Linked DNA regions of Homo sapiens: region 2 is reported to be linked to region 1. Evidence: microRNA targets listed by miRTarBase, many of them from high-throughput screens and not tested one by one. Region 1 holds a microRNA gene; the other region holds the end of a gene's coding sequence.

What was found. The annotated mature microRNA hsa-miR-218-2-3p reads CAUGGUUCUGUCAAGCACCGCG and lies in region 1 at 2,039-2,060, opposite strand. An mRNA with a match to its seed (bases 2 to 7 or 8) in the 3' UTR can be bound and repressed. Matches are read on the target gene's strand: a 7mer-m8 pairs with bases 2 to 8, a 7mer-A1 pairs with bases 2 to 7 and ends in A, and an 8mer does both.
Region 2: miRTarBase lists KLF3 as a target of hsa-miR-218-2-3p. Seed matches in the 3' UTR shown: 7mer-m8 at 1,378-1,384 and 7mer-A1 at 3,947-3,953.

Annotation. Positions count from the first base shown.
Region 1 is chr5:168,766,130-168,770,689 of GRCh38, forward strand. MIR218-2 (microRNA 218-2) reads right to left here and starts at 2,126; the gene lies at 2,017-2,126. The region is part of intron 14 of SLIT3 (slit guidance ligand 3); the gene reads right to left.
Region 2 is chr4:38,696,733-38,700,732 of GRCh38, forward strand. KLF3 (KLF transcription factor 3) reads left to right here. Exons shown (of 6, transcript NM_016531.6): 6 at 350-4,000. The coding sequence ends at 531. Among named protein-coding and RNA genes, the nearest start is that of KLF3-AS1, 34 kb to the left of the region's middle.

The sequences.
Region 1 (4,560 bases):
CAACGGTATGCATTTTGTATCATCCTTTGGGCAGCCAGTTTGCTGACTGGGAGTCATAAATTCATTGTTATCTGATCATCATGGACTTGCTAACTCATGTTTCCAGAGCTCTCCTCCCCTATTCCCAATATCCCTAAGATGAGTGGAATAAAAGAAAGGAGGAAAGAAGCAGAAAGAGGAATTGGGGGGAGCGTAAGTCCTGTCAGGCCTCATCAGCTTGAAAAGACAGTGATGTGAATAAGCAAAGGGTCATAAGTGATGAATGACTAAGGAGAACACTGCCAGGCACACAGACATCCACTCATGGGCAAGGCTGGGGGACCAGCTGCCAGTGGCTGGAAGATGCCAACTGTTTTACTAGGAGTTTGGTCACCAGTTGGGCAGGGAGCCGTCCTAGTAAGCTATCCCCTTTGGAGTCTATTATGAGTGCAGCCATCTGCCTGAAAACAGAGGGAAATACCCATGGTCTGAGGCTGGCACTGCCTCATCACAGCCTGTGGCTGCGGGGCCAGTAAAGCACTGATGGAAGGGCACCATTATGGACCCACTCCCAGAGGCCTGGTCCCTGCCATGTTAGGGGCAGTGCCGAGGGCCTCAGAATGCCCCTCTCTGTAAGGTGGGAAAGGGAACTTCTCCAGGCTCGAGGATTTGCTCTGTGTTAAATGGGATCTTTGTATGTCCATGCTGGAGAGGAACAGCCATTTGAATAATGCTTTCTCTCTTACTCAAGTTCTTTCTACTAACAGATGAAAGTCTGAAAGGGAGAGTTTAAGCAAATTTCAAGTCCCTATCAAATCACAGTTTTTAAATGTTCTAATTCAAGGCAATGGGGTTGTCCACAGCTGGGAAGGTGGGTATTACAGCAGTACAGTGCAGCCATTCTGGAATCAGATGACCCTGGGTAAGTTAGCTAACCTCTCTGAGCCTCAATATCCTCATCTGTAAAGTGGGACTTTAGATTTTGTGAACATTAAACAAGGTAATGATGTGAAAACAGTTCACTGCCTGGCCTATAGCAAGCACTCAATGTATGTTAAAAAACTACTAAGCAATGGTTGGGCTCCTGGTTCTGAGGGGTAACCTCAGATAGACGAGGTAATAAGAGTCACACCTCATGATGGGGGCCCAGGGCTCAGCTTCTAGTTCTGAGCTAGGCTAAAGTTCCCACCTTAGCTCTCTCTTGCAGAATAGGACAAAGACTCCAGGACAGGAATGAACAACACAGTCTTCTGGTTACACTGGGTCTAGGATTTATCAAGGAACAAGCAAAATAAGAGGTACCAAGATCCCTCTCTTTATTATCAGAGATAGCAGGTTTCCACGTCCACACACACTCCCCTCCCCTGAAACAGAATTAGCACCAGGTGAGGAGCCCAGCACCTCCACGTTAACTGTGCTTTGCAGGTCAAGGAAACAGACTGGACTTTAGGTTTCATGGGGTTCAGGGACTGTGTTTTCATAAAGTATGGGAATGAGGTTCAGAAGGAACCTTGGGTTAAACCCAAAGTCTCAGACTCACATGAGTTTCACCCATTCTCATGCTGACGTTCATTTCAAATAAAGTGAATACCAATAAAGGTGGTGGTGGGAGGGGTCGGGGGTCACAAGCAGTAGGAATTCCCCTTTGGGTTAGCTGCCACTTGGAAAAATGACCTTGGGTTGGGACTCTCCCATGAAACCATGGGGCGTATGCCTTGGGTATACTTGTTCCCTTCCAGTGGAAGAAGAGACACAGTAGTTTCTGAGCTTGAACCTAGTTATTACTCCTTGTCTGACATCCAGACTAGATTTGGGGGAGGGTGACTCCATTTTGGGAAAGAGATGTGGATACAGATCTCTTTCCCCAGGGTGCTTCTCCAGACCCATTTCCCTCTGTATCTGCATCCTTTGAGACTCCTACCCTCCTGCCTTTGGTGAGTTGAGACTGGGAGAGGTGGGTCTGGCAGGTGGTGGGCTGCGGTGCTCCAGAGCAGAGGAGAGGTGTCCAGCGGTGGTGGCGGCGGTGGCGGGCCATGCTGCAGGAGAGCACGGTGCTTTCCGCGGTGCTTGACAGAACCATGTTCCGTTTCCATCGTTCCACCACATGGTTAGATCAAGCACAAAGGAAAGCCCCGCAGCGACTGGTCAGAGTCAAGGTCAGGAAGCAGCGTCAGAGAGAGGACAGGAGCGCTCAGAGGAAGCAGCGTGGAGAAGCGGAAGCCGGAGCAGGCCCCCACTGAGCGTGATTAGTATCAGGAGTGGGGTTCCACTGGAACACTTCCGAAGATTGCAGCCCTGCTGCCCTTGTGCCCCACCCCAGGGAGACACAGTAGGAAGGGAGAAGAACGGGAGGGAAATCACTGGATGCCCATACTCGGGAGCTTCAGGACAGCATGGTTCCTTCCCAAGGAAAGAAAGAACACTCAGACATCTGTGATCCTATCACATGCCTGAATTGAGCCTCTAAACTCCATTCAGTCACACCAGTTGGTCTGACAAGACATTAAACTTAGAAAAGCATCTTCTGCATGCTTTGCAACATAGGCCCAATCCCCCCAACAGCTGAGTGGTTCCATCACAGTCATTCCTCTAGCCCCTTAAGTCAAGAGACAATCCACAGTTCCCAGTGGTCTAGCAAACCTTCAATGCTGTTCTTTAGGAAAAAGCCCCCTTTGACATTCCACAATTCAGGAGTCTCCTTTATATCCTTTGAGGTCAGCAGGAATGCTCTGGCTGATAGACACTCATCCCAGATCATTTGAGGTTTAATAGAGGAGCAGTGGGGTGTCAAAAGAAAATATATCTCTCTAGCCAGAGAGAAAGACAGGAAAACAAATGGGGCCGTAGGGTTTGGACTGAGGAACCTGCAATCATAGTTGTTGTTTGAGAACACTGACTTTCACAGAGATGGTGGCCAGTGCGCCTCCTGATGAAGGGCCTCTTTGAGACTAAGAGAAGGAAGGAAAGGGAAGCCAAGTGATGAGTCTGAGGGGAAGACACTGAATTCTGGGGTCCTTCTTGATTTCTTGTTCTCTTCCTTAGCTGGAAATTATGGGAGCGAACAGGATGAACCAATAACCACTGTCAGGATGCCAAAGGCCCAGGTGAGGGTACCCAGTTTTTATATTCCTCTCTGTGATAGATCAGGGTCAGTTTCCATGAACCTGCTGACTTGGGACTTCCTCCCACTTGGCATTAGGCTGGAGATGTGCATCTTGAAGAAACTGGAGCTAAGGCTAAGTGACTGAGACCCTCCCTGCCTGACCTCTGACATGAGAACCAGTATCAACATTCTTCCACTATGTGTTTTTGGGACTGGGCATATCCTCTAGATGGTCTCAGCATCTCAACGGTGCATAGGTTGTCTGCCATGTTGGACCAGTTAGGAAGAGCCAGCCCACAGCTCTGGGTCTGTCTGGCCTCTCCTCCTTCCTAAGGTCTCTCATCACACGCACTAGAGTCAGCCACTAGAATCTGGACTCCACTCTGCTTTGACACCTATGCAGGGCTCTGTGAACACTGTGGTTCTGGGACTTCAAATGTGAGTTTGATTAGGACCCTGGTACAAGAGCAGGGGAAATCCATCCTGTTCGTGCAAACCGCCACCCTCACCAAGCCTTAAAATCTAATTTTCTTTCTCTTTGGTTTCTTCCTACAAAAAGAAATGGAGGGATTTGTAGGTAAATTATCAAGAGTCTTCACAGTATGTCAGAAGTCCTGGGTTTCAGATCTTGCCCTAAAAATAATACTCAATACCTTAGATAAGATTTTTCTGCTGTGTGGACCTCAATTTATCCATCTCTAGAATAAACTGGATGACCTCTAAGGTTTCTAAAAGTTCTGTAATTCCTTGAGAGCTATCTTGCTGTTCGCCGTCTTTGGACACTTTGCGTCACCACCCTCTGTACTTTTCAGCAAGAGAGTTTCTTCTCACACAAAGCGGGGAGGCATGAAGGAAGACAGACAGCACCCTGCAACTGCCAAGTGCTCCCAGGGATGGGCTTGGGGTCCCAGGCAGCCAGACGGAGCCTTTTCAGGAGGACTTAATCTGATGGTCAGATTACCCCAGCCGGCAGCATCCAACCCTAAACTGATCTTGCTGCCCAAGGCGGCGGATGCAGCTGATAGAGAGAGGCAGACACAGGCAGCTGGGAAACCAGACGCCCTGCCTAAGGAGGGGCAGGATGTGTTACGGAGCAGCCCTCAAATTGCCTCCTAATTACATCAGCTGTCTTTTCAATGGGGGTGCTTTTAGGAAAAAGTAAAACGCAGAGTTATTATCTGTCACATCCAGTCTGTGTCACCTGCCCCCCTTCTTTCTTCTGGAGCTTCCTGGAAACACAGAGCTTTACATCTATGGTTTTTCTTTCCCTCCAAGGCCAAGGCAGGTCTGGAACCCCATGTTTCTCAAAGCCAAGGCCTTTGGAGCTCAGCAGTCATGCTTTCTTTGCAATGACATAAAATAAAAGCAAATAGAGTGCTACGTGTCAGTCTCATGCTAGCTCCAAACATCTCTACTTTTTAGGAATAATCTTTCGCTTAGCATTGTTTTTTTTTTTAAAAAAGGTATCTTAGAGTCAA
Region 2 (4,000 bases), not on the chromosome of region 1:
ACTGCATATAATTAAGCTCCCAAGCAGGTTTAAGATTTGGGAGATGTGCAAATACAGATCACCATGTGTTCATTCACTATTTGGTAGTCCCTCAGAATGGATTTCAGTGACTCTGTGTTTTAAGAACTCTTAAAATTCTCCTCCCGTTTTTTTGGCAGAGAGCCAATGAAACATTACGGTATTAGTTCATTTTCTTCTTGCTTGTCTTGCAGTAGTTTATAATGCACTGTGTTATTGAAGAACAAATGTATGAACATATCTTGGAAATAATATTTGTCAAGCATTAACTCAAAGATCTTTACTACCTTTACAGAAAAAAAAAATAGCTCTTTTCTTTTTCCTTTTGCAGGAGAAAAACCCTACAAATGTACATGGGAAGGGTGCACATGGAAGTTTGCTCGGTCTGATGAACTAACAAGACATTTCCGAAAACATACTGGAATCAAACCTTTCCAGTGCCCGGACTGTGACCGCAGCTTCTCCCGTTCTGACCATCTTGCCCTCCATAGGAAACGCCACATGCTAGTCTGATTGCCTCTGTGTCCTGCCTCAGCGTGACTCCCCACTCACCTGGCTCTCTCTCTGTCCTGCCTCCCATTATCTAACACATTTTTTACATGTACATTTTAATTTGATTCAGCTGGTCTGAATCTCTGAATTTATATCATCCAAAACTTCCATATGGTCAGTAGTAGATGTTCTCTAATCCTCCCTCTCCTTACCACGGGTCAGACCTAAAGAATGTGAACACTTTTTTTTTTTTTTCTGGGGATGCTAAGCAAACCCTTCTTACAGATACGTTTAATGTAATAAGAACAAGGGAACATGTAAACTAACATAACCAATTGTCAGTTCTCCATGTATTCCTCAAAAGAATGTCAGAGTAAATGTATTAGAAATACAGTATCCAGACTGCTAGTCCTTGCCAGAGACATTCTTACCTCTGCCCTGTGATAATATTTTATGCTTGACAGTGAAAACAAGTGTGGCCCCTTGCACCGGTTAGCTAGAAGTACAGCCAGATTTCAAGCTAGTGCAGTCACCTCTTCCGTCATTCTTCACAAATCTTGTCAACCTGGATCTTAGACTTCATCTGAATCGAGTTCTTTGCCCTCCTTTGTGCCTGCAGCTCATATGGAGGTCTTTGCCACCAATGGGAGATGAGCCCAAACTTTCGATCTAGGTGGGTGATGTGTAGCAGTTCAAGGGAAGGGTGCTGTGTTTTCATAGCATGGAGTCGGAGGAGAGGGCCATTTAGCAGGGGGAGCAGAAGAGGCAATTCCTCCTGGGCTAGGGGTTGTCAGTGAGGTTTCAACATTTTGTTAGCTGTGTGCAGCATTCCCAGAGCTTCAGTCTCTGTGCATACTCAGCTTTGTAGAACCATGCTGCAAAGCCATATACCGATGGGGTTATCCATGCAACTATCTCCATTCCTACAATGTCCTTAATATGAGATCATCAAACATTGATAGTAGGGACTCCATGGAATATTTGCCCAGTAATGGTAAGAAATCTTTCGGGTAAGAGTATGGATGGTTCTTCTTTTACCCAATCTGCTTATAGCTTTTTTTGTAAACAGGGAAATGTTGAGTGGTACTTGTATTCCCTTATCAAATTAATCACATAGCTTTTATACAGAAACTCTTCCTGTGTGAGCTGTTAAGGTGCCAAATTGGCTGTCATTTGTATTCATGACACATACCATAAAGCATCTGCTAATGCTTTAATGGATTGATTCAATTAAGACCTGAGTGACACTATTTGTAAATATAACTAGTTGTGAAGCACACATACCTTTATTTTGGGAATTTATGAGAAAATATAGAAAACCACAGATCAGGGATTCATATATGTAGCTCAAAAATTCCCAAAAGTTTACTGTTAGAGTTGGCAATTTCCTATCACTATTTCAGTGTCAGAACAAACTGAAAATAATGGCTCGTGTTTATGTTGAAGATAAATAGCACCATTATTGGGGGAAGTTATTCAAAAGCAGGCTTTTGAGCACCATAGTCTAAATGCCAATAAAAATAATTCATACATAGAAATGTCATTGGTCCTGAATTTGAAGAAAGTGAGCAACAGTAGTTAAATGTGGGTGCATATAACCAAATTCCCCTTCATCAAGAATGGAGGAGAAGAGAGAAGAATGAAATCCTGAAGATTCATCCCAGCCGCAACTCAGGATCCAACACAACTTTAACTGGGAGGAATACATTGTTTGATCATTTTTAAAACATCTGTGAATGAGTGATTCCGGAGGCCTGTGAATTGTGTGGGGAGCTTGCTTTGATGGCACTGTGTTAATAAAAGTTGTAGGGACTGTGCACCTAAGAGGCTAAGAGGTCCCACTCATCCGCCCTGTGAACCAGCTGTAAAGAAATGTAGTTAAGAAATGCAAAGAAATGTGTTATCTTGGCACTTGGGTTTGATTTTCCTTTTTTTAAAGCACTGCAAAACTTCTTTAGGATACTAAAACATCCTAATTGGGCTGTTTTTTTGTTTTGTTTTGTTTTTCAGCTAAAGGCAAAGATAATTTTTTTTTCAGCTGAAGTTTTTCTTTTTTGCAACTATGACATGAATTGAGTGATAAAATGGCTCTTTGAAAAGTAGATATTGTCTGTATTGTAAATGCTTAGTCATATTCATGGCAAAGTGTTCATTTCTTGAGATGGTTCTTTCACAACACACAAGAATCAAGATGGAACGCAAGGAAAATCTTTTTGTTTTGACCGAGGTAACCAGTTTATGTGTGTTCCAATCCATAGAGAAGTGGGGGAAAGGGCGAGAAAGGATCAGATTGATCTGGGATCAGCTTTGAGCCTGAGTTCAGTGAATAGCCTCATGGGCATCTCATGGAATTGATGCATTTGCTGTGGCATATTTAAATTTTGTTCAAAAGATTTGAAGCAAGACCTTGCAAAGACTCTTAACATTACTGTTCAGCTTGCTTAGATTGTGTTAACAGTTCATTTAACAAAGATCCGTTTTAACTCTGAACAAAAGCAACCCAGAGCGGCCATTCTCTATTCCCATGCTGGTCAATACGCTTTCATTACCAATTGGCCCTTACCAAACTTTTCTTATATATATATTTGTATTTTACTATGATAGTTGAGAAATTTAGCCTCTTAGTCATTTTTAGCTGTTATTGTGGAAGACCTCAAATACAAGATTAGATGCCCTTGAACATGTTTTAATGATGTGTGTCATGTTACTATCAATGGTGATTTCAATCGCAATATTTTAAATTGATGAGAATGATTTGTAAACATGAAGTTACTATTACGTAAATTCTGTTTGTTATAGAGTTTCTTCAGTTGTTACCCAAGTGTCATCCTAGAGAAGTCAGAAGAATCAGAATCCATCGTATTTTAGAGTTATGTGAATCTACATCATAAATGGGCATTAACATTCTAAATTGCTTGGTTTGGAGAATGTGTTAGCAGCATAGCTATATTCAACTAGGGAGATGCTAAATACACAGAAGTTTCAAGAGCCTTGGAACAGAATTACAGGGGAACTATATATGTATATGTATATTTTATTAAACACCCATCTGCACTATCAGTATTGCACTAATGTGGAATTTGAAAGACTATTTTGCTGATACTGTATATATGCGCATCATTCCTGATTAGATTGTTGTAAAGACAATCTGAAAGATCTAAGGTTTTAAAATAATTTGGTTTGAAAATATACAGTTGTCTTGAAGGAATTGCTGTCATACATGAAGTTGCTCCGAGCTGTCTTTATTCTCTTCTTGGTCAAGGTTAACAATTGCTAAATGATCGCAAATTCACCTAAACAATACATTTACAAAGCCATCTTTACATGCATTAAACGAGGGCTACAACAATATTGTTTTACAAATACTAGCACTTTTTTTTCTGTTATGTACTTAGTGTTAGAGGGTCAAAATAATCTTTCTGCTTAGCATCTCTTAAACCATACCTGCAAATATAGCAGGATTATTACATTTACAGTACTTTAATACTTG